7 linked regions of the Homo sapiens genome follow. The protein of the gene in region 6 purifies or fractionates together with the protein of the main gene of each other region. This does not show direct contact. Each region holds a gene or a part of one and is shown on either strand. Other genes may lie near its edges.

The links.
Region 1: the proteins of STRAP (region 6) and ZNFX1 purify together in Homo sapiens (affinity purification with mass spectrometry; 2 studies listed by BioGRID and IntAct, with this or other methods). This does not show direct contact.
Region 2: the proteins of STRAP (region 6) and RPRD2 purify together in Homo sapiens (affinity purification with mass spectrometry; 2 studies listed by BioGRID and IntAct, with this or other methods). This does not show direct contact.
Region 3: the proteins of STRAP (region 6) and TSN purify together in Homo sapiens (affinity purification with mass spectrometry; 2 studies listed by BioGRID and IntAct, with this or other methods). This does not show direct contact.
Region 4: the proteins of STRAP (region 6) and LARP6 purify together in Homo sapiens (affinity purification with mass spectrometry; 2 studies listed by BioGRID and IntAct, with this or other methods). This does not show direct contact.
Region 5: the proteins of STRAP (region 6) and TGFBR1 purify together in Homo sapiens (affinity purification with western blotting; 3 studies listed by BioGRID and IntAct, with this or other methods). This does not show direct contact.
Region 7: the proteins of STRAP (region 6) and SNRNP70 purify together in Homo sapiens (affinity purification with mass spectrometry; 3 studies listed by BioGRID and IntAct, with this or other methods). This does not show direct contact.

Annotation. Positions count from the first base shown.
Region 1 is NC_000020.11:49,247,058-49,250,557, reverse strand, and holds part of ZNFX1 (NFX1-type zinc finger-containing protein 1), read left to right. Parts: intron 1-846; coding exon 847-3,291; 3' UTR 3,292-3,500.
Region 2 is NC_000001.11:150,458,147-150,461,646, forward strand, and holds part of RPRD2 (regulation of nuclear pre-mRNA domain-containing protein 2), read left to right. Parts: intron 1-1,913; coding exon 1,914-2,171; intron 2,172-3,500.
Region 3 is NC_000002.12:121,758,651-121,762,150, forward strand, and holds part of TSN (translin), read left to right. Parts: intron 1-59; coding exon 60-156; intron 157-2,758; coding exon 2,759-2,874; intron 2,875-3,500. UniProt on the Homo sapiens protein: DNA-binding protein that specifically recognizes consensus sequences at the breakpoint junctions in chromosomal translocations, mostly involving immunoglobulin (Ig)/T-cell receptor gene segments.
Region 4 is NC_000015.10:70,830,158-70,833,657, reverse strand, and holds part of LARP6 (la-related protein 6), read left to right. Parts: intron 1-541; coding exon 542-1,606; 3' UTR 1,607-3,500. UniProt on the Homo sapiens protein: Regulates the coordinated translation of type I collagen alpha-1 and alpha-2 mRNAs, CO1A1 and CO1A2. Stabilizes mRNAs through high-affinity binding of a stem-loop structure in their 5' UTR.
Region 5 is NC_000009.12:99,150,113-99,152,402, forward strand, and holds part of TGFBR1 (TGF-beta receptor type-1 isoform 1 precursor), read left to right. Parts: 3' UTR 1-2,290. UniProt on the Homo sapiens protein: Transmembrane serine/threonine kinase forming with the TGF-beta type II serine/threonine kinase receptor, TGFBR2, the non-promiscuous receptor for the TGF-beta cytokines TGFB1, TGFB2 and TGFB3.
Region 6 is NC_000012.12:15,885,387-15,888,886, forward strand, and holds part of STRAP (serine-threonine kinase receptor-associated protein), read left to right. Parts: intron 1-3,500. UniProt on the Homo sapiens protein: The SMN complex catalyzes the assembly of small nuclear ribonucleoproteins (snRNPs), the building blocks of the spliceosome, and thereby plays an important role in the splicing of cellular pre-mRNAs.
Region 7 is NC_000019.10:49,105,778-49,109,104, reverse strand, and holds the end of SNRNP70 (U1 small nuclear ribonucleoprotein 70 kDa), read right to left. Parts: intron 1,481-3,327; coding exon 1,393-1,480; intron 1,311-1,392; coding exon 662-1,310; 3' UTR 501-661; downstream 1-500. UniProt on the Homo sapiens protein: Component of the spliceosomal U1 snRNP, which is essential for recognition of the pre-mRNA 5' splice-site and the subsequent assembly of the spliceosome. SNRNP70 binds to the loop I region of U1-snRNA.

The sequences.
Region 1 (3,500 bases), on a different chromosome or scaffold from region 6:
AAATTGTCAGCTGAGGCCAAGAGTTCAAAACCAGGCTGGGGCACATAGCAAGACTGTCTCTTTTTTTAAAATAAATAAATAAATTCTGAGTATCAGGTTCTTCTGGACAATAAGAATAATGGCTCCTGCCATATCCCATTACTGTATGGAAGGAGGTAATGTATATAAAGCAGTCAGCACAGTGGAGTGCTCAGTAAGTTAGCTGCTCTGTCATTATCATCATCCTCCTCACAGCACTGCTTGTTCTTTCAGCTATAATGGTTGGATTGTGGATGGCTGTTTTATTTTCTATTTTTTTTGAGATGGAGTCTCACTCTGTCTGTCACCCAGGCTGGAGTGCAGTGGCATGATCTCGGCTCACTGCAATCTCTGCATCCTGGGTTCAAACTATTCTCCCATCTCAGCCTCCTGAATAGCTGGGATTATAGGCGCCCACTACCACGCCCAGCTAATTTTTGTATTTTTAGTAGAGACGGGGTTTCACCATGTGGGCCAGGCTGGTCTCAAACTCCTGACCTCAGGTGATCCACCCACCTCGGCCTCTCAAAGTGCTGGGATTACAGACGTGAGCCACTGTACCCAGCCAGCTTTTTTAAATATTAACATCAAACAAGTATCTTGAAAACTGAAAGAGACATAATCTTTTATTTTCATAACTTGCTGTGGCCCCAAAATGAAGCACACAATGACTAACTAAAGAACTAAAGATAGTGATGTTGAGTGGACAAAAAGCTTTCCAAGGTCTCTCTCTGGAGCAGAGTAAGTGGCCAGTGCATGTCAAGAGAGGAAGAAAAAAACAAGTGCCATGAGTGAACCTTTTAACATGTCACTTCTTTTCCCTGTCAGGGGGTGTCTTCCAACCTTTTCTTTGTAGAACACAACTTTCCTGAACAGGAAATCCAAGAGGGCAAAAGCCATCAGAACCAGCATGAGGCTCACTTTGTGGTAGAGCTGTGCAAGTACTTCCTGTGCCAGGAATACCTGCCTTCCCAGATCACCATCCTCACTACCTATACCGGGCAGCTCTTCTGCCTGCGCAAACTGATGCCTGCCAAGACATTTGCTGGCGTCAGGGTCCATGTTGTGGACAAATACCAAGGGGAAGAGAATGACATCATCCTCCTCTCGCTAGTGCGGAGCAACCAAGAAGGCAAGGTGGGTTTTCTGCAGATATCCAACCGCATCTGTGTGGCCTTGTCCCGAGCCAAGAAGGGAATGTACTGCATCGGAAACATGCAGATGCTGGCCAAGGTGCCCCTGTGGAGCAAGATCATTCATACACTTCGAGAGAACAATCAAATAGGCCCCATGCTCCGGCTCTGCTGCCAGAACCACCCTGAAACCCACACCTTAGTATCCAAAGCTTCTGACTTCCAAAAAGTACCCGAAGGAGGCTGCAGCCTGCCCTGCGAGTTCCGCCTGGGCTGTGGGCATGTCTGCACCCGTGCCTGCCACCCTTATGACTCTTCACACAAGGAGTTCCAATGCATGAAGCCATGCCAGAAGGTCATCTGTCAGGAAGGGCACCGGTGTCCCCTTGTTTGCTTCCAGGAGTGTCAGCCTTGTCAGGTGAAGGTGCCCAAAACCATTCCTCGGTGCGGCCATGAACAAATGGTCCCTTGTTCCGTGCCTGAGTCAGATTTCTGCTGCCAGGAGCCTTGCTCCAAGTCTCTGAGATGTGGGCACAGATGCAGCCACCCATGTGGTGAGGACTGTGTGCAGCTGTGTTCAGAAATGGTCACCATAAAACTCAAGTGTGGGCACAGTCAACCGGTAAAATGTGGTCATGTGGAAGGCCTCCTGTATGGTGGTCTGCTAGTCAAGTGTACCACAAAGTGTGGCACTATCTTGGACTGCGGGCATCCTTGCCCAGGCTCCTGCCACAGCTGCTTCGAAGGGCGTTTCCATGAACGCTGTCAGCAGCCCTGCAAGCGCCTGCTTATCTGCTCACACAAGTGCCAGGAACCATGCATTGGTGAGTGCCCACCCTGCCAGCGGACCTGTCAGAACCGCTGTGTCCACAGCCAGTGCAAGAAGAAATGTGGGGAGCTGTGTAGTCCCTGCGTGGAACCCTGTGTCTGGCGCTGCCAGCACTACCAGTGCACCAAACTCTGCTCTGAGCCCTGCAACCGACCCCCATGCTATGTGCCTTGTACTAAGCTGCTAGTTTGTGGCCACCCCTGCATTGGTCTCTGTGGGGAGCCATGCCCCAAGAAATGCCGGATCTGCCACATGGATGAGGTCACCCAAATATTCTTTGGCTTTGAGGATGAGCCTGATGCCCGCTTTGTGCAGCTGGAAGACTGCAGCCACATCTTTGAGGTGCAAGCCCTAGACCGCTACATGAATGAACAGAAGGATGATGAAGTCGCCATCAGATTGAAAGTCTGCCCTATCTGCCAGGTGCCCATCCGCAAAAACCTGAGGTATGGAACTAGCATAAAACAGCGGCTAGAAGAGATTGAAATCATCAAGGAAAAGATCCAGGGCTCAGCAGGGGAAATAGCAACCAGCCAGGAACGGCTTAAGGCCCTGCTGGAGAGGAAGAGCCTCCTCCACCAGCTGCTTCCTGAAGACTTCCTGATGTTAAAGGAGAAGCTGGCCCAGAAAAATCTGTCAGTGAAGGACCTGGGTCTGGTTGAGAATTACATCAGCTTCTATGACCACCTGGCCAGCCTGTGGGATTCCCTGAAAAAGATGCATGTCTTAGAAGAGAAAAGAGTGAGGACTCGACTAGAACAGGTCCATGAGTGGCTGGCCAAGAAGCGCTTGAGCTTCACTAGCCAGGAACTAAGTGACCTCCGAAGTGAAATCCAGAGGCTCACATACCTGGTGAACCTTCTGACCCGCTACAAGATAGCAGAGAAGAAGGTGAAAGATAGCATAGCAGTAGAGGTCTATAGTGTCCAGAATATCCTTGAGAAAACATGTAAGTTCACCCAAGAGGATGAACAACTTGTGCAGGAAAAGATGGAAGCTCTGAAAGCCACCCTTCCCTGCTCTGGCCTGGGCATCTCAGAGGAAGAGCGAGTGCAGATTGTCAGTGCCATAGGTTATCCTCGTGGTCACTGGTTCAAGTGCCGCAATGGCCATATCTATGTGATTGGCGATTGTGGGGGAGCCATGGAGAGGGGCACGTGTCCTGACTGTAAGGAAGTGATTGGTGGCACAAATCATACTCTGGAAAGAAGCAACCAGCTTGCTTCTGAAATGGATGGAGCCCAGCATGCTGCCTGGTCTGACACGGCCAACAACCTGATGAACTTTGAGGAGATCCAGGGGATGATGTAGGAAGATGGTACACCACTGCCTTTTGCCCTCGCCACTGAATGACTGGGGCCAGCTCCCTAATGAAGGAACTGAAGTTTGTTTTTTATTATCATCCTTTTTAGGCTGGGCGCAGTGGCTTACGCCTGTAATCCCAGCACTTTGGGAGGCCGAGGCAGGCGGATCACGAGGTCAGGAGTTCGAGACCAGCCTGACCAACATGGCGAAACCCC
Region 2 (3,500 bases), on a different chromosome or scaffold from region 6:
TGCTATAAGTATAAAATACACATTGAGGCCAGGTGCAGTGGCTCATGCCTGTAATCTCAGCACTTTGTGAGGCTGAGGCGGGCAGATTGCTTGAGCCCAGGACTTTGAGACCAGCCTGGGCAACATAGTGAAACCCTGTCTCTACAAAAAATATAAAAATTAGTCAGCGTGGTGGCATGCGTCTGTAGCCCCAGCTGCTGGAAAGGCTGAGGCAGGAGAATCACTTGAGCCTGGGAGGCGGAGGTTGCAGTGAGCCAAGACCATGTCACTGCACTCCAGCCTAGATGACAGAGGGAGACCCTCTCTCCAAAAAAAAAAAACCAGACACATTGGAGTCCAGAAACTAGGCCGAGCATGGTGGCAGAAACTCTCCCAAAGAGTTAAAATATCTCATTAATAATTTTTTATTTATAACACTGAAATGAAAATATTTGGGATATATTAGGATGAATAAAATAGAATTTTTAAATTACATGTGTCTGTTTCTTTTTATTTGTTTGTTTTTGAGAGAAAAAGAGAGTTTCCCTCTGTCGCCCAGGCTGGAGTGCAGTTGCGCAATCTTGGCTCACTGCATCCTCCATCTCCTGCGTTCAAACAATTCTCCTGCCTCAGCCTCCCGAGTAGCTAGGATTGATTGTAGGTGCATACCACCACACCCGGCTATTTTTTGTATGTTTATTAGAGACGGAGTTTCACCATGTTGGGCAGGCTGGTCTCGAACTCCTGACCTCAAGTGATCCGCCTGCCTCGGCCTCTCAAAGTGCTGGGAGGTGGGCTTGAGCCACCATGCCCGGCCCTGATTCTTTTTTTGTTAATTTGGCTGCTAGAAAATTTAAACTTACATATGTGGCATATGTGGCTTAAATTGTATTCATGTTAAATAGCACTGTTTTGGGATGAGGGGTCACTTATACTGGAATTCCTTATTCTCTGTCACTTTTGACCATCAAGAATTCCAAAGTCAGTTTGTTAATCACACTTTCAGAAATAACCTGATTTGGTGAATTGTTTCTCTTATATCCCCAGCCTTCATAAATCTTATTAGATAGTTTGACTCCTGTTGAATTCAATGCACTATTGATACAGCCCTTAAAGCATTAAAAATAATTATTCAAGGTGATTGAGAGTTAAAACATTGTAGTTTCAAATTAGCTAGTGCCTGATTGCACCCCCCAATAGGGCAATTTCAGGAAGCCAGAGGAAAATACAATGAACACTATAGAGGTTCTGTTTCTAAGAACAGAAGTTCTTAGAAAGTTCTCAGGTTAATGGAAAAGAAAAACACAGGACAATTTATGAAAAATATCATTTCCAAAAGACAGAACACAAATGTGTACCAAATAATAACATGCTTCTTGAATTGTACAGATTTAATACACAAATACTAAGAAAATGCAAAGGAATCATTGAAAAGTAAGATACAAGATAAATTCTGGAAATTGCTTGCTTTTTTTTTTTTTTTTGAGACGGGAGTCTCGCTTTGTTGCCCAGGCTGGAATGCAGTGGCACAATCTCGGCTCATTGCAACCTCTGCCTCCTGGGTTCAAGCGATTCTCGTGTCTCAGCCTCTGTAGTAGCTGGGATTATAGACGCCTGCCACCACACCTAGCTAATTTTTTGTATTTTTTGTGGAGGCAGGATTTCACCATGTTGACCAGGCTGGTCTCGAAATCCTGACCTCACATGAGCCATTGTCCCCAGCTGGAAATTGCTTTTAAGCAGATATTAAAGGTGGGAATTATCATAAATTATGAAGAGTATGACTTTTTCAAAAAAGCATGAAGTGAGTCGTTGTTTTCTCTAAAGTAGTGCCTTTTCCCCCAAGTCCGGAAATATTAGGACATGTTATTTCATATAGGAAGCAAAGTCTGGAAAGTAGTAGGATGTAATATCTCTTTTCTTTGTTGAAACAGTCGAGGACAGGAAGGAAAAACCTGCAGAGAAGTCAGCTGTATCCACTTCTGTACCTACAAAGCCAACAGAAAATATCTCAAAGGCCTCTTCATGTACCCCAGTGCCTGTGACCATGACAGCAACTCCACCTCTTCCAAAGCCTGTGAATACTTCTCTTTCCCCTTCCCCAGCATTGGCTTTGCCAAACCTGGCTAATGTGGATCTGGCAAAGATCAGTTCCATCCTTAGCAGTTTAACATCAGTCATGAAAAATACTGGTAAGTAAGCCCAGTAAGGAGGATAAAAAGTTAATTTCCATCTTTTTAAATTGAATCATTAATCTGTTTTTGGGGGGGTTGTTGTTGTTGTTGTTGTTGTTGTTTAGACAGAGTTTCGCTCTGTCTCCCAGGCAGGAGTGCAGTGGTGCAATCTTGGCTCACTGCAACCTCTGCCTCCCGGGTTCAAGTGTTCTGCTGCTTCAGCCTCCCAAGTAGCTGGGATTACAGGCACCTGCTACCACGCCCGGCTAATTTTTGTATTTTTAGTAGAGATGGGGTTTCACCATGTTGGCCAGGCTGGTCTTGAACTTCTGACCTCAGGTGATACACCCACCTCGGCCTCCCAAAGTGCTGGGATTATAGGCGTGAGTCACCGTGCCCAGTCTGTTGTTGATTTTTTTTAATTAATGATTTTTTTTTTTTTTTCTGAGACGGAGTTTCAGTCATGTTACCTAGGCTGGAGTGCAATGGTGCAAACTTCACTCACTGCAGCCTCCATCTCCCAGGTTCAAGCAATTCTGCCTTAGCCTCCCAAATAGCTGGGACTACAGGCATGTGCCACCATGCCCAGCTAATTTTGTATTTTTGGTAGAGACGGGGTTTCACCATGTTGGTCAGGCTGGTCTCAAACTCCTGACCTCAGGTGATCCACCCATCTTGGCCTCCCAAAGTGCTGGGATTACAGGCGTGAGCCAGCGCACCCAGCTAAATTAATTGTTAAATTAAAAAATAATCCAATAATCGGTCATTATAGAAAAATTAGAAAATAAGCAAAGAGAATGAAATAAATATCTAGGCCAGGCGTGGTGGCTCATGCCTGTAATCCCAGCACTTTGGGAGGCTGAGATGGTAGATTGCCTGAGGCCAGGAGTTCGAGACCAGCCTTGGCAATATAGTGAGACCCTATCTCTAAATAAAAAATTTTAAATGAAAAAAATTTTTTAATAAATATCTATAATCCTGTTACCCCAAAGGAAACCACTTGTGTTTACCCTTAAAAGTATATGTGTATATGAATGTTTTGGAGAATTAAATATGTATAACAATTTTTAAAAAAGTAAGTGTATTGCATATACTGTTTCAAAACTAGCTATTTAAAAGTTAATTACATATCTTGAATGTTTTTATGAATCATTAAATATTTCTCTACATCATTTTTAATAGCTGCATAGCATGTGGTAACTTATCTAATCCTTTATTATTAGGCACTTAGTATGTTTCCAGTTTTTTACTGTTATGAAGAATACTATAGGGCCAGGTGTGGTGGCTCACGCCACCACTTTGGGAGGTGGAGGCAGGTTGATCACTTGAGGCCAGGAGTTGGAGACA
Region 3 (3,500 bases), on a different chromosome or scaffold from region 6:
AGCAAGAACTGTATTTGAAATTTGGTTAAGTTTTTCATTTGGTTATCTTTTGTGACTAGTTCCAAAGAGGTGTTTGAAAGCTCGAGAACATTTTGGTACAGTAAAAACACATCTAACATCTTTGAAGACCAAATTTCCTGCTGAACAGTATTACAGGTTTGTAAGAAAAATAGCATTATTTTATAATGTTAAGTAAAAAAAAGGAGAAAAATTATGTGTACCAAATGATTGCTTACAACTAGGCAAACATCCTGTGTAGAAGTAACAAAAAGAGAAAAAACCGAACTAATAATGGTCATGACAAAAATTGGTGATTTTATTTTTTTCTTCTTTTTACTGTCTAAATCTTAAGGAACATGTATTACTTTTGCAGTGAAAAAGCAATTAAAAAGAAAATGTGGTATGAGGGTCAAAAGTGAGAATATCTTTTTGCTATATTCAAGTTTCTTGTGAAATTGGATGAACTATAGTTAGTGAAATAATGAGATTAGGTGGCAGTATATATATGGAGTCGAGTTTTACTTTGAAGCTTGAATTTCACTGCCAAGTGATGTAATTAGCTAATATTTTATGCCATGTTTTCTTATTAAAATCAACACTGTTGATTTTAAGATACACCATTATTTTATGTACCAGTAGGGAAGGAAAATTTTGCCAGTCATAAATGTGAAACATGGGCCAGGCGTGGTGGCTCACACCTGTAATCCTAGCACTTTGGGAGGCCTAGGTGGGCAGATCACCTGAGGTCAGGAGTTTGAGACAGCCTGGCTAGCATGGCGAAACCCCGTCTCTACTAAAAATACGAAAATTAGCCAGGTGTGGTGGCTTATCCCTGTAACCCCAGCCACTTCAGAGGCTGAGGCAGGAGAATCGCTTGAACCAGGCAGGCGGAGGTTGCAGTGAGCCAAGATTGTGCCATTGCACTCCAGCCTGGGCAACAGAGTGAGACTCCATCTAAAAAAAAAAAACAACTTGTGAAACATGGATTGTGAAATGTCTCCTGGTTTCATAGGTGTTAAACTGGGAAAAACTGCACCTGAATCAAAAGTTTCTACTTATTTTAATTTTCTTACTGAAAAAGATGTTCTTTTAAGACGTATATATCAGCAGTAAATAGGATGAGTATTTTCAGGGGGTGGGTAGTATAACCTTATGAGAATATTCTTTTAAGGGAGAGGTTGACAAACCACTAGTGGCTGCTGCCTCTGGGAGCTAAGAATTGCTTTTGTTTTTTCAAGAGTTGTTAAAAAAAAGAAAATCCCAGATAAGAATATGTAACAGTGAAAGCGTCCCACAAAGCCTAAAATATTTACTACTTGGCCCTTTACAGAAAACATTTGCTGATCCTTGCTGTAAGGCAGGGGTTCCCAACCCCCAGGCCATGGACTGGTACTGGTCTGTGGCCTGTTAGGAACTGGGATGCACAGAAGGAGGTGAGCGGTAGGTGAGCGAGTGAAGCTTCATCTGTATTTACAGCCGCTTCCCATCACTTGCAGTACTGCCTGAGCTCCACCTCCTGTCAGATTGGTGGCAGCATTCGATTCTCATAGTAGTGCGAACCCTATTGTGGACTGTGCATGCGAGGGATCTAGGTTGCATGCTCCTTATGAGAATCTAATACCTGATGATCTGAAGTGGAACAGTTTCATCCTGAAACCATCCGCCCCCCTTCTGTGGAAAAATTGTCTTCCATGAAACCAGTCCCTGGTGTTGAAAAGGTCAGGGACTGCTGTTGTAATAGCTGAAGCACAGAGAGAGGTAGGACAGTAGAACAGGTGGGGTCTTTAGAGACCATCTTCTCTGGAGGTCACACACAGGCTGCCCTCTGGCTGGATTTGGCCTTCAGAAGGGTTTGTGTGACCTGCATTATGTTGAGACCTTTTTTTTGAATGTATTGCCACATTTGAGAATCAGGAGGCATTGCATAAATATCCACAGGTTGTAAAATTTCCTTTTTTCAGGCTTCTAGCTCAGTATTCTATTTTAAGTGCATTTGTTTAGTGATTGCAAATGGTAATTTTGTGAATCAGAATTTTCTTGGTATTCTGCACTCAAATCAAAATGGAGGAATACGTTGAGGATGATACATAACTGCAGTTGTCTTCAATCATCAGTTACAAATTTTTATTTTTTTCAGAGCAGTATCACTGTTCTTACTGATTAAATTTAGAAGGCACAATTGCTCTTGTCATCTGTAATCTTCAGTTTTCTTTTTTCTGTCTTTTTTTTTTTTTTTTTGAGACGGAGTGTCGCTCTGTCGTTCAGGGTGGAGTGCAGTGGTGTGATCTTGCGCACTGCAACCTCTGCCTCCCAGGTTCAAGCAGTTCTCCTGCCTCAGCCTCCCGAGTAGCTGGGACTATGGGCGCCTGCCACCACGCCTGGCTAATTTTTGTATTTTTAGTAGAGAGGGGGTTTTGCCATGTTGGCCAGGCTGGTCTTGAACTCCTTACCTCAGATTGATCAACCTGCCTCTGCTTCTCAAAGTGCTGGGATTACAGGCGTGAGCCATCGCACCCGGCGTAAATTTTCATACTCATCAAAATTAGACCATATTTGTCACTGATTAAACTTAATTGTTATAAATTCGAACTTGTAAAATTAATGCTAAATGTCATATTTCTCTTTATATATTGGGGGTTTGTGTAAGATTTTATTTGAAAAATGATCGCATTTCTAAACCGTTTGAACATGGCTGTATTAAACCCATCTTTCTGAAGGTCCCTAACCTTGGAGGCTAAATGTGCTTATTTTCATGCAGATTTCATGAGCACTGGAGGTTTGTGTTGCAGCGCTTGGTCTTCTTGGCAGCATTTGTTGTGTATTTGGAAACAGAAACACTAGTGACTCGAGAAGCAGTTACAGAAATTCTTGGCAGTAAGTGTCTTTATTAGTGGGATCTGCAGAATCAGGCATGGTTGCTTACTTTTTGGTGGAAAGGGTGGTTGTACTTTGTTTATTAAAACAAACAAGAATTAACTAAAAACCACTTATAGTTGTAGCTTGGTATCTGAGGATGATGCTTCCAGAGCTCTTCCAATACCCAAATCTGAGGATGTTCAAGTCCCTTATATAACTGGTGTAGTATTTGCATATAACCTATACACATTCTCCCACATACTTTAAATCATCTCTAGATTTCTTAAAATATCTAATACAGTATAAGTGCTATGTAAATATTTTTTTTTTTTTGAGACAGAGTCTCTGTCGCCCAGGCTGGAGTGCAGTGGTGCAATCTCCGCTCACTGCAACCTCCACCTCCCAGGTTCAAGTGATTCTCCTGCCTCAGCCTCCCGAGTAGCTGGGATTACAGGTGCCTGCCACTATGCCCAGCTAATTTTTTGTATTTTTTTTTTTTTTCCGAAATGGAGTTTTGCTCTTGTTGCCCAGGCTGTAGTGCAATGACGCAATCTCAGCTCACCACAACCTCCACCTCCTGGGTTCAAGCATTTCTCCTACCTCAGCCTCCTGAGTAGCTGGAATTACAGGCATGCACCACCACA
Region 4 (3,500 bases), on a different chromosome or scaffold from region 6:
TTAGTACTCACTGTGAGCTAGACACTATTCTGTTTTATGTGTAAATGAGTTTGTATGTGTCTGTACATACATATGTACATGTATATATTGATTCGTTTAATCCTCAGGACAGCTCTTTGAGATGGCACTATTAACATCTCCATTTTCCAGGGCAAGTCGAGGCACTAAGAGGTTGAATAACTTTCCAAGTCTTACTTCAAGCTAGAGGTGGGCCTTTGATTTGTGTATACAGCAGCCTTGTTCCAGAGCCTGCAAATTTAACCTCTAAACTTGCACAGAATGGAATATTTCCATTTTCATGGACAGTTCTGTTGGACAACACTGCTGTGGTGCCCTTGTTTGAAATGGTAGAACTTGTTTTCATTCACTTATTCATTCACTAGATTTTTGAGTGTTTACACATACCACGTATGATTCTAGACACTAGAATACAGGGATTCTAGTGTTACAGGGATAAGGAAGTGAGGGAGGGAGCTTATAGCATACACAAGGATGGACAAGGACATTAGATACTATTTCAGATTTGCTTTATGTTCTGCAGGTGAAACATCTTACACGGGACTGGAGAACCACAGCACATGCTTTGAAGTATTCAGTGGTCCTTGAGTTGAATGAGGACCACCGGAAGGTGAGGAGGACCACCCCCGTCCCACTGTTCCCCAACGAGAACCTCCCCAGCAAGATGCTCCTGGTCTATGATCTCTACTTGTCTCCTAAGCTGTGGGCTCTGGCCACCCCCCAGAAGAATGGAAGGGTGCAAGAGAAGGTGATGGAACACCTGCTCAAGCTTTTTGGGACTTTTGGAGTCATCTCATCAGTGCGGATCCTCAAACCTGGGAGAGAGCTGCCCCCTGACATCCGGAGGATCAGCAGCCGCTACAGCCAAGTGGGGACCCAGGAGTGCGCCATCGTGGAGTTCGAGGAGGTGGAAGCAGCCATCAAAGCCCATGAGTTCATGATCACAGAATCTCAGGGCAAAGAGAACATGAAAGCTGTCCTGATTGGTATGAAGCCACCCAAAAAGAAACCTGCCAAAGACAAAAATCATGACGAGGAGCCCACTGCGAGCATCCACCTGAACAAGTCCCTGAACAAGAGAGTCGAGGAGCTTCAGTACATGGGTGATGAGTCTTCTGCCAACAGCTCCTCTGACCCCGAGAGCAACCCCACATCCCCTATGGCGGGCCGACGGCACGCGGCCACCAACAAGCTCAGCCCGTCTGGCCACCAGAATCTCTTTCTGAGTCCAAATGCCTCCCCGTGCACAAGTCCTTGGAGCAGCCCCTTGGCCCAACGCAAAGGCGTTTCCAGAAAGTCCCCACTGGCGGAGGAAGGTAGACTGAACTGCAGCACCAGCCCTGAGATCTTCCGCAAGTGTATGGATTATTCCTCTGACAGCAGCGTCACTCCCTCTGGCAGCCCCTGGGTCCGGAGGCGTCGCCAAGCCGAGATGGGGACCCAGGAGAAAAGCCCCGGTACGAGTCCCCTGCTCTCCCGGAAGATGCAGACTGCAGATGGGCTACCCGTAGGGGTGCTGAGGTTGCCCAGGGGTCCTGACAACACCAGAGGATTTCATGGCCATGAGAGGAGCAGGGCCTGTGTATAAATACCTTCTATTTTTAATACAAGCTCCACTGAAAACCACCTTCGTTTTCAAGGTTCTGACAAACACCTGGCATGACAGAATGGAATTCGTTCCCCTTTGAGAGATTTTTTATTCATGTAGACCTCTTAATTTATCTATCTGTAATATACATAAATCGGTACGCCATGGTTTGAAGACCACCTTCTAGTTCAGGACTCCTGTTCTTCCCAGCATGGCCACTATTTTGATGATGGCTGATGTGTGTGAGTGTGATGGCCCTGAAGGGCTGTAGGACGGAGGTTCCCTGGGGGAAGTCTGTTCTTTGGTATGGAATTTTTCTCTCTTCTTTGGTATGGAATTTTTCCCTTCAGTGACTGAGCTGTCCTCGATAGGCCATGCAAGGGCTTCCTGAGAGTTCAGGAAAGTTCTCTTGTGCAACAGCAAGTAGCTAAGCCTATAGCATGGTGTCTTGTAGGACCAAATCGATGTTACCTGTCAAGTAAATAAATAATAAAACACCCAACTGGGAGTGCTGACTTTGAGGTTATAGATTGTGCCTGACAAAAGTCTGTGCCTGTCTGACAGAGCTGTGGGTGGTATGTCATGAGGCCCTGAGGAGCTTAGCAGAGACATCTTTCTTTTCTTTAAGAGAACATTTAAAAATTTTTTTATTTGTACACATTTATGGGCTACATGAGAAACTTTGTTACATGTTTATAATGCATAGTGATCAAGTCAGGGCATTTAGGGTTTCTCACTGTACCCCAGGGCAGCCCCAGGGCTCTCCTTGGGCTTCTGGCAGCCTGAGTGGTGTCTCATCACAGGGAATTTTACTGAGCAAAGGCAGCTTGGCGTATACTGAGGGTGTACAGTCCAGGACCCACAGCATTGATCTCACCTGGGAACTTATTAGAAATCCAGATTCTCAGGCCAACCCTAGGCCCACTGAATTAGAAAGTCTGGGAGAAAGGCCTGGAATTTGGGTTTTAACAAACGCTGCAGGTGATTCTGATGCACGCTGGAGAACCACTGGATGGACAAAGGCTGCAGGACTTGAGGTCAGTCCATTTGACCCCCAATCTCTCACTATTTTGTGACCTTGGGAAGGTTACTAAGCCCCGTGAACCTCATCATCTCCCTGTGAATTGCTTTGTTACGATGTCCATGTCTGGAATGCAGCTGGCCCTCCATAAATGTTAGCTCTCTTTCCTTCTCACTTGGGTTAATGTTTGTTATCATCAGGAGCTGCCTTGGTGTAGCAGAAAGAGCATTGGCCTAGATTCCAGTGTTGGCTTATGCTCTGGCTATTTGGCAGGATTTAATAGAGCTTGTTAATAATTATTGAACAGTGATTAGGTGCCAGGGACTATGCTAAGAGCTTTCCATGCATTATCTCATTTAATCTGCCCAAAAACTACAAGAGAAATGTTCAGGTATTATCTCTATTTTATTCCAGAAAAAAACAGACTTTACTTGGGTAATTAACTTGTCTAAGGCTTAACAGCTAAATTGGTAGAGTTGGGCTTGAAACTAGTGGTCTGGCTTTGGAGCCCACACTGTTTAACCACTAAGTGGTACTCAACATTTCTGATCTTTACTATCCATATTCAAAAAAGAATCCACCATAAAAGGTGCTAATATTTATTCAGCACCTTCCTACGTGCTAGGCATTGGGTTAGACACATTTCACTTACTCTCAGTGTCCATCATAAGGAATTATTATGCCAGTATCACACATGCAGCTGCTGAAGTAGGAAAATAATATCCCAAACTTGTGAAAATGGACAAAGATAGTATATCCTAAATGATATGGCTCTATACAAATTAGCAGGTGATTGTGATCTGGATAGTAAGATGCTTTGTCCCTTAAGATGCAGAAGAGTTCGTGTTAACTGGCAAATGCCTCCAGCAATGT
Region 5 (2,290 bases), on a different chromosome or scaffold from region 6:
TATTCTGAAAATGCCTTTCTCCTACCAAAATGTGCTTAAGCCACTAAAGAAATGAAGTGGCATTAATTAGTAAATTATTAGCATGGTCATGTTTGAATATTCTCACATCAAGCTTTTGCATTTTAATTGTGTTGTCTAAGTATACTTTTAAAAAATCAAGTGGCACTCTAGATGCTTATAGTACTTTAATATTTGTAGCATACAGACTAATTTTTCTAAAAGGGAAAGTCTGTCTAGCTGCTTGTGAAAAGTTATGTGGTATTCTGTAAGCCATTTTTTTCTTTATCTGTTCAAAGACTTATTTTTTAAGACATGAATTACATTTAAAATTAGAATATGGTTAATATTAAATAATAGGCCTTTTTCTAGGAAGGCGAAGGTAGTTAATAATTTGAATAGATAACAGATGTGCAAGAAAGTCACATTTGTTATGTATGTAGGAGTAAACGTTCGGTGGATCCTCTGTCTTTGTAACTGAGGTTAGAGCTAGTGTGGTTTTGAGGTCTCACTACACTTTGAGGAAGGCAGCTTTTAATTCAGTGTTTCCTTATGTGTGCGTACATTGCAACTGCTTACATGTAATTTATGTAATGCATTCAGTGCACCCTTGTTACTTGGGAGAGGTGGTAGCTAAAGAACATTCTGAGTATAGGTTTTTCTCCATTTACAGATGTCTTTGGTCAAATATTGAAAGCAAACTTGTCATGGTCTTCTTACATTAAGTTGAAACTAGCTTATAATAACTGGTTTTTACTTCCAATGCTATGAAGTCTCTGCAGGGCTTTTACAGTTTTCGAAGTCCTTTTATCACTGTGATCTTATTCTGAGGGGAGAAAAAACTATCATAGCTCTGAGGCAAGACTTCGACTTTATAGTGCTATCAGTTCCCCGATACAGGGTCAGAGTAACCCATACAGTATTTTGGTCAGGAAGAGAAAGTGGCCATTTACACTGAATGAGTTGCATTCTGATAATGTCTTATCTCTTATACGTAGAATAAATTTGAAAGACTATTTGATCTTAAAACCAAAGTAATTTTAGAATGAGTGACATATTACATAGGAATTTAGTGTCAATTTCATGTGTTTAAAAACATCATGGGAAAAATGCTTAGAGGTTACTATTTTGACTACAAAGTTGAGTTTTTTTCTGTAGTTACCATAATTTCATTGAAGCAAATGAATGAGTTTGAGAGGTTTGTTTTTATAGTTGTGTTGTATTACTTGTTTAATAATAATCTCTAATTCTGTGATCAGGTACTTTTTTTGTGGGGGTTTTTTTTTTGTTTTTTTTTTTTTGTTGTTGTTTTTGGGCCATTTCTAAGCCTACCAGATCTGCTTTATGAAATCCAGGGGACCAATGCATTTTATCACTAAAACTATTTTTATATAATTTTAAGAATATACCAAAAGTTGTCTGATTTAAAGTTGTAATACATGATTTCTCACTTTCATGTAAGGTTATCCACTTTTGCTGAAGATATTTTTTATTGAATCAAAGATTGAGTTACAATTATACTTTTCTTACCTAAGTGGATAAAATGTACTTTTGATGAATCAGGGAATTTTTTTAAAGTTGGAGTTTAGTTCTAAATTGACTTTACGTATTACTGCAGTTAATTCCTTTTTTGGCTAGGGATGGTTTGATAAACCACAATTGGCTGATATTGAAAATGAAAGAAACTTAAAAGGTGGGATGGATCATGATTACTGTCGATAACTGCAGATAAATTTGATTAGAGTAATAATTTTGTCATTTAAAAACACAGTTGTTTATACTGCCCATCCTAGGATGCTCACCTTCCAAGATTCAACGTGGCTAAAACATCTTCTGGTAAATTGTGCGTCCATATTCATTTTGTCAGTAGCCAGGAGAAATGGGGATGGGGGAAATACGACTTAGTGAGGCATAGACATCCCTGGTCCATCCTTTCTGTCTCCAGCTGTTTCTTGGAACCTGCTCTCCTGCTTGCTGGTCCCTGACGCAGAGACCGTTGCCTCCCCCACAGCCGTTTGACTGAAGGCTGCTCTGGAGACCTAGAGTAAAACGGCTGATGGAAGTTGTGGGACCCACTTCCATTTCCTTCAGTCATTAGAGGTGGAAGGGAGGGGTCTCCAAGTTTGGAGATTGAGCAGATGAGGCTTGGGATGCCCCTGCTTTGACTTCAGCCATGGATGAGGAGTGGGATGGCAGCAAGGTGGCTCCTGTGGCAGTGGAGTTGTGCCAGAAACAGTGGCCAGTTGTATCGCCTATAAGACAGGGTAAGGTCTGAAGAGCTGAGCCTGTAATT
Region 6 (3,500 bases):
CCATGTTGGCCAGGCCGGTCTCGAACTCCTGACCTCAAGTGATCTGCCCGCCTTGGCCTCCCAAAGTGCTGGGATTACAGGTGTGAGCCACCGTGCCTGGCCTTTTTTTTTTTTTTTTTTAACAACCTCACACTAAGGAGCAATTGTAAATCTGCTGCCTCCTTCATTTTAAGTACATTAAACATACCAATTTTAGAATGAAAAAATGAAGGCTGATTGACTGTGGTGGCAGATACGTGACTGTATGCTCTTGTTTATTGAAACAGTGTTGTTTTTATGCTTTCTTAACATTTCAAGTCTCAATGTCTGTGTTTACAAGTGGTGTATTAAGAGCATGAAGGCTGGAGCCAGATGACCTGAATTTGAATTGGTGGCCTCATGCACTTTATTTAACCATTTTTTTTTCTGTCATGGTACCTAATTCATAGGTTGGTTTTGAATATTAAATAAGTTAATATGTTTCGAATACTTACAACATTGCCTGAAGTCTATTACACCTATGAAAGTGTTACATATGTAAAGTAACGATGATAGCTACCATGTAAACTATCACCACCCGCACTTGATCAAAATCACATATTATTTTGAAACTAATATGGCTAAAGCCTTCAAACTATTTGGCCTCATATAAGGAAGATTGAATAGATTTAAATGTCAAGAAGGAAGATTTTTGTGATTTTTTTTTCCCCCTCCTCAGTTAAGGCTTTAGGTGCTGTGTTAGAGTGGAAAATAATAACAAGCATTGGCACTAGGTGGGCTTGCATTCGTGTGCTAACTATGCTGTGTATTTCCAGTTTGATCATCATAGGATTTTTTTTTTTTTTTGAAACAGGGTCTTAGGTGCCTAGGCTAGAGTGCAGTGGCGTGATCATAGCTCACTGCAGCCTCTATCTCCCAGTCTCAAGCAGTTCTCCAACCTCAGCCTCCTGAATAGTGACCACAGGCGTGTACTACCATGCTTGGCTAATCTTTGTGTTTTTTGTAGAGATGGGCTTCACCATGTTGTCCAGGTTGGTCTTGAACTCTTGGGCTCAAGCGATCTGCCCACCATGGCAGGATGTTTCTTAAATGTCGGCTTTCATATCTGTAAAATGGGACTAAGACCCATGAGATTATTGGAGGAACAGAGAGATCTTTCTCCACCATATATCCCTGAAGTCCAATATGATCTCTGTCACATAGTAGGTGCTCAATAAATGCTAGTTGAGATTTATCCCTCATTTCCTCTATGTCTTGTCTGTGGGGTGTAGGAGCGTGTTTTCATGTGCGTGTTTGTGTGTGTGTGTATTCTCTCCAAGAAGTTACTCCCCACAGCCTACCTGATTAGTCATGGTTGGTATAAAGCATTTTTAGAAACAATTTTTTTTTCCCTCCATTCTTACGTTTCTTGGAAAACTCATTTATGGTGTGGTCATTTAGAAGTGGAATTTGGTCCCGTTTCTTGTGGAGAAATTTAGCAGAATAGGTCTGTGGACTAGTGTAGAATGTTATCTTGGAGTAATTCGGGCAATTGAGTCCAGTGTTGAGTACAGTGTCCCTAAAACACCATCTCTTTGTATCTATTTGGGAAGAGTGCCAAAGTAAAGACAATTCTGTGCTGTGCTCCCAAGAGGGCTTAAGTAGATCTGGGATTGGGTCCAGGAATTTATAGGTAATCACAATGTATCACTCTTTCTTTCTTGTAAAGCCAATAGAAATATCTAATTTTAGTTTTAATAAGGTTCTTGATAAATCGAAAATGGTATTATCTCCTAGATGACTTGGTCAACATGTTAAGGTATTTGGGCAATTTTTTAAAAATCTTAAACTGGCCTGTTTTGTTGAAGGTTTAAATAAGTAAGTTAAGCAGCTCCTATTATGAGACTTACGGTAAGTTCATTCTGAGGATATGGAAAGTATCAGGCAGCATTATTATTTGCAAGAAACTGGGGTATAAGAGGTAACAGTAGTTTAAGGAGATGACAAGTACTTCGTGGGATGTGAAGAAAATGTTGGAGGGTTAGCTGCTGAAAGGGTATTGTTAATAGCGCTTTACTGTCTTGATTTGAGCCCTGTGGCCAACTAATATATGTCAATTTCTTGCCTGGAGATTGAATAATACATTAGGAAACATTTAGATTAGATCCATTTTAGGGCTCTTACTGTGAATAATGGAAATCTGCCAGAGTTAGTACATGCCCTGTCAGAAAATGTCATGCCTCTATTTTAGTACTGTTTCTAAATAGGAGGAAAAACTACAGACACATTACCTCTCTGGTTAATATTACTACTTTGGTCACTCCAACTCTCTTCTCACCTTTGAATAGACACAGTCTAAGCAGAATCTTAAGATTTTAGAGCTGCCATGTTGGCGTTAGCCTGTAGCTACTTAGGAGGCTGAGGTGGAAGGATCTTGAGGCCAGGAGTTCAAGTATAGCTTGGGCAATATACCAAGATCCTGTCTCAAAAAAAAAAAGAGAGAGAGGTTTTAAGTTTATGGGAGATTATTTAATAAACTTGAAATTAGCATATCAAAGGACATTGCCCGGGTTTCTTTGGAGACTTGTGAATAATTAGAATAGTAATTTTAGATACATTTGTTGTTTTCTTCACTTTTGATGCTTTCTGTCATTCTAATACTTGTGAACCCTTACCACAACCATGAAATGCATTTCACTGTGATTAAGGATATATGTAAACAAAAAACAAAGCAAATTTAAGCACCGTAATAAGTGGAGTTCTGTGGGAGAACAGAAAGGAATGGTTAATTATTGGAGTTGAGGATAAATAGTTTCAAAGAAAAGATAGCATTTGAAATGAGCCCTAAGGGTGAGTAGAACTTTAATAGCTAAGAATGTAAAATACAGACTTAAGAGAATAATATAAACAAGAACATAGGAGCCTGGAAGAAAATACGTAAGTTATTTGAGGAGTGGTTTATAATCTAGTGTTGCTAGATTCAGAGAAACAATACAAAATGAGGTTGGGAAAGTAGATTGGGGCCAGAGAGTTGCATTGGAATGACAGAGAGAGGAGCAAGTTTCCTGGGCAAAGAGAAATGAATACTAGGGAGTTTAGCAGCAAGGCTACTTATAGTTGACATTATTTCTTTCAGAACATATTTATTCAGCCACTCACATGACCCACATTATTAAATATTGCAAGCTTTGGTAGTGTATCATGAGCATTCCTGTTAGATGGTCTTTCATATTCATTAACCACATTGCACATGCTATTAATGCTTATCTAGAATAGCCTTCCCTTCTTTTTCCCCTGATATATTTCTCTTTGCTTCTTCCGACGGCTAGCTCTGTTACTTACATTTTCTGGACAATATCTAGGTGCTTTTTTCTGAGTTTTTATAGCCATATATATGTCTTTTAATTATATTTCTTAAATGTGATATTTAATGCATGTTTTTCTCCTCAGCTAAAGCTCTACTATGGCAAGAACCTACTGTGGGGTATTTTTTGTCTCCCATTTGTGCCTTAGCACTAAGTATAGAATGATATATATTTAAT
Region 7 (3,327 bases), on a different chromosome or scaffold from region 6:
TGAAATCTCAATTGCTGGTGGAACCTCTTCTGTGTTTCTGCTCGTTGCTCCTCTGTCACTACTTATTATGATGTGGGTCCACCCTTCCTGCTCTGCCCCGTCTCACCCGTGCCCAGTGTATTCTGCCTTTCCTCACCCTGTGTGCCGCTCTCCCTTGCAGATGGTAGCTTCCCTTGCATATTCAAAACTGCGGCTTCCCCTGAGTAATCAAGCCCCCTCCTAATTCCCAGCCCCCCACCAAGACAGGGGTATGGTCAGCCCTGAGGAATGTGTGGCAGAGATGAAAAAGAAAAAAGGGTGAAAAACACAAGGGAGACAAGGAGCCCGAGAGGCCGCCTCACCCCACTTTCAACAGCTCTGGCTACTGGGCAGAGCCAGCCTCATGTCCTAACGCTCAAGTTTTAAGTACACCCTGGAAACCAAACCAAGCAGGGCTATCAAGTCAGGAACAACCTTCTGGGGAAAACAGAGCAGTGAGGAAGAAACCGAGGTGCCCACTATCAACAGGAAATTAATTTTATTTTTAAATCCAAGGGGCCAGAACAAATGAGACACCTACCCTTGGAGGACAAACTCAAGTGGCCAAGGTTGGGGGAGGGGATGACAGCAAGGGGCTGGGCAGGAACGCGTCCAAACACAGCAGATGGAGAGGACGACCTCTTCACTCCGGCGCAGCCTCCATCAAATACCCATTCTCCGGAGCCAGGTAGCCGTCGCCGCCCTCAGACTCCATGTACATGTCTCGGCTGTCGTTGCCCAGACCCTCCAGCCCGTTGTCCTGGCCACCGCCCCCACCTCGGGCCTCATCCCTGCCCCGCTCACTGCCCCGCTCCCCCCGTTTGTGCTCGCGGTCACGGTCACGGTCACGATCCCGGTCCCGGCGCCGCTCGCGCTCGCTCCGGTGGCTCCGCCGTCGCTCCCGGTCACGATCCCGGCCCTTTTCCTCTGGACCGTCAGGGCCGTCAGGCCCGAGCTCCCCTGGAGGCCCATCATCAGGGGGCGCGTCACCCGCCTCGGAGGGCTCCGCCATGTCGCCACCGCCGCCACGCAGCTCCTCCTTGCGCTCCCGCTCCCGCCGGGCCCGCTCCCGACTCCGGCTGCTTCGCCGCTTCCGGTCCCGGTCCTTGTCCTTGCTCCGCTCCCTGGAGCGCCTCCGCTCCTCCTTGTCGCGACTCCGTGAGCGCCTCCGCCGGTCCCGGGAGCGGGAGCGTCGCCGTTCTCGCTCCTTGTCTCGCTCCCGGCTCCGCTCTCTGCGCTCCCGCTCACGGTCCCGGTCCCGGTCCCTGTGCGGAAGCGGGGAGGGGCCGGGCCTGGATGAGGTGGGCAGACCTGTGTGGCTGGGCTCCCCCCGTGACCGCCCCCCACCCCAGGACACCGGTCGCCCAATCTTACCTCTCATCGTAGCGGGAGGTGTCATCGCGGCCTGAATGCCGGATGTTCACATCAGCCCCTCCTCTTCTGGTACCACCGAGGCCTCCTCCTGGGGCAGGGCAGACGGACAGAGGGTGAATCTGGGCAGGGACAGGGCCCGGAGGAGCAGAAATGAGCCGACTCCAAGAGCAAAGGGCAGGAAGGCAGCCCCTGGCTTAGTGTTCACAGGGCCGGGTCCCCCCGTGCAGTTCATCCCGCGCACTCCCATCACAAGACAGCCACGTCTTCTCTAATTAACTCACACAAAGCGTTCGCTAGGCAACAGCCGTTACTGGAACCCATGTCTGGCCCCAAAGCGCATCATCTTAACCATAGCGCACTTCACAGCCTCCTCAAAACCCTCCCTTCCAATCATCCTCGCCCTCACAGAAACCCGAAGCCAATGATCTTTCCACCCAAAAATGTGATCTGCTTAGAAGCCTTTGCTGGCGTCCCCCAGCCTAAGGTCCAAACTCCTCGTCAACTGGTGGTAGAGGCAGCAAGAGCGGGCCCTGCTAGCGTCTGAGCCGCGGCTCTTGGCTGCGTGTCCCAGGCCTTTCCCAGTGTCCCCACGCTCACCTTCCTGCCAGTGTCTGTGCATTCTCCTTGCCCTGGACTGGTCTCCCCTTCCTTCTCTGGTGAACTCACGCTCACCCTTAACGCTAGCCCGAACATCCTTTCTCGGGAAGTCTCTCCTCACAGTCCTATGTACTCACAGTTGCAGAAACGCTTCCTTCCCCTGGAGTTTCAGGTTTGCTACCTGAGTCGACCCCTACCTGCCTCTCCCACCAGACTGCAGGGCACCGGAACCGTGGGCATGCCCAGCTCTTGCTCACGGTACCAGCAGGTGGCGCTGCAGCTGGTATAGAAAGGTGGATGTGTGTGTGTCAAGTGAATAGATAGATGAACAGCCCCAAGGCACAGATGATAACCTCATGGTTCTGATGGGGAAACAATCTCAGATCAAGTCACTGGCCCACAGTGACTCAGCAAAGAAGGTGCAGAACTGGGCTGTCACTGCCGTCTGCTGCAAAACCTGCCTTCTCAAGCGCTCCTCTATCTCGCACTGCCTGGAAAAGCTTCCGTGAGGCAGGGCTGAGTTCTGTATAGAAAAGAGGCTGCAGGGAGACATTCTTATAGAAGCAGGCAGCGGACCAGGCACCTGCCATGTCACAGGCACAGGGCAGCTAGACTAGCCTTTCCTATATTCAGGTCATGACCCAGAAATGAGTCCCATCATCAATCTGATGGGTTGCAACCAACATCTTAAGAAACAAAACAGCAGAATACAACTATATACTTACTACATAGAAAAAACTGTTTCCTCAAACTTTAGGTTACAGTATTTCTGCGGGTGCACCGAGTCAAGATGTTATTGGCTAACACCAACAAAAAGTTTGAATGGCAATTGAACTAGAAGATTCTGAGATTCTGGAAAGACTGAGATTCTAGCATTTTCCCGCCCCAACAGGAAACAGCAGAGCTATAAGAACCCACTCCACCCCAGAGAGACCAGAGTAAGGTAAGAACATGCCTGGTAAGCTCCGAGGCTCAGCAGCTGAGAGCGTGGTCTCCCTAGCACAGGCGAGTCCAGAGCCAGGACACAGGGCTGGGAGGCAGGACAGGAGCCCCAAGTGGCTACTACTGCCTGGGTGTCTGCCCAGGGACCATCATCTTCTCTGACAACTGTCACTCAGCTTTGCAGGATTCAGTCCTCAATAAGCATGCCTGAGCAACAGGACCCCAGGCCCAACACTGAGTCAATCAAATGTGCCCACCCCGAAACAAGAGACTCATCCAGGACTGAGTGTAAAGCTGGGGCCTGTGGCCTGCTGCGCTGGGCCAGTGCAAAGAGGCATGGGACCGACCTAGCTGCATGGAGGCAAACGAGGCAGAAGCAAGCTGTGGGCTGTCACA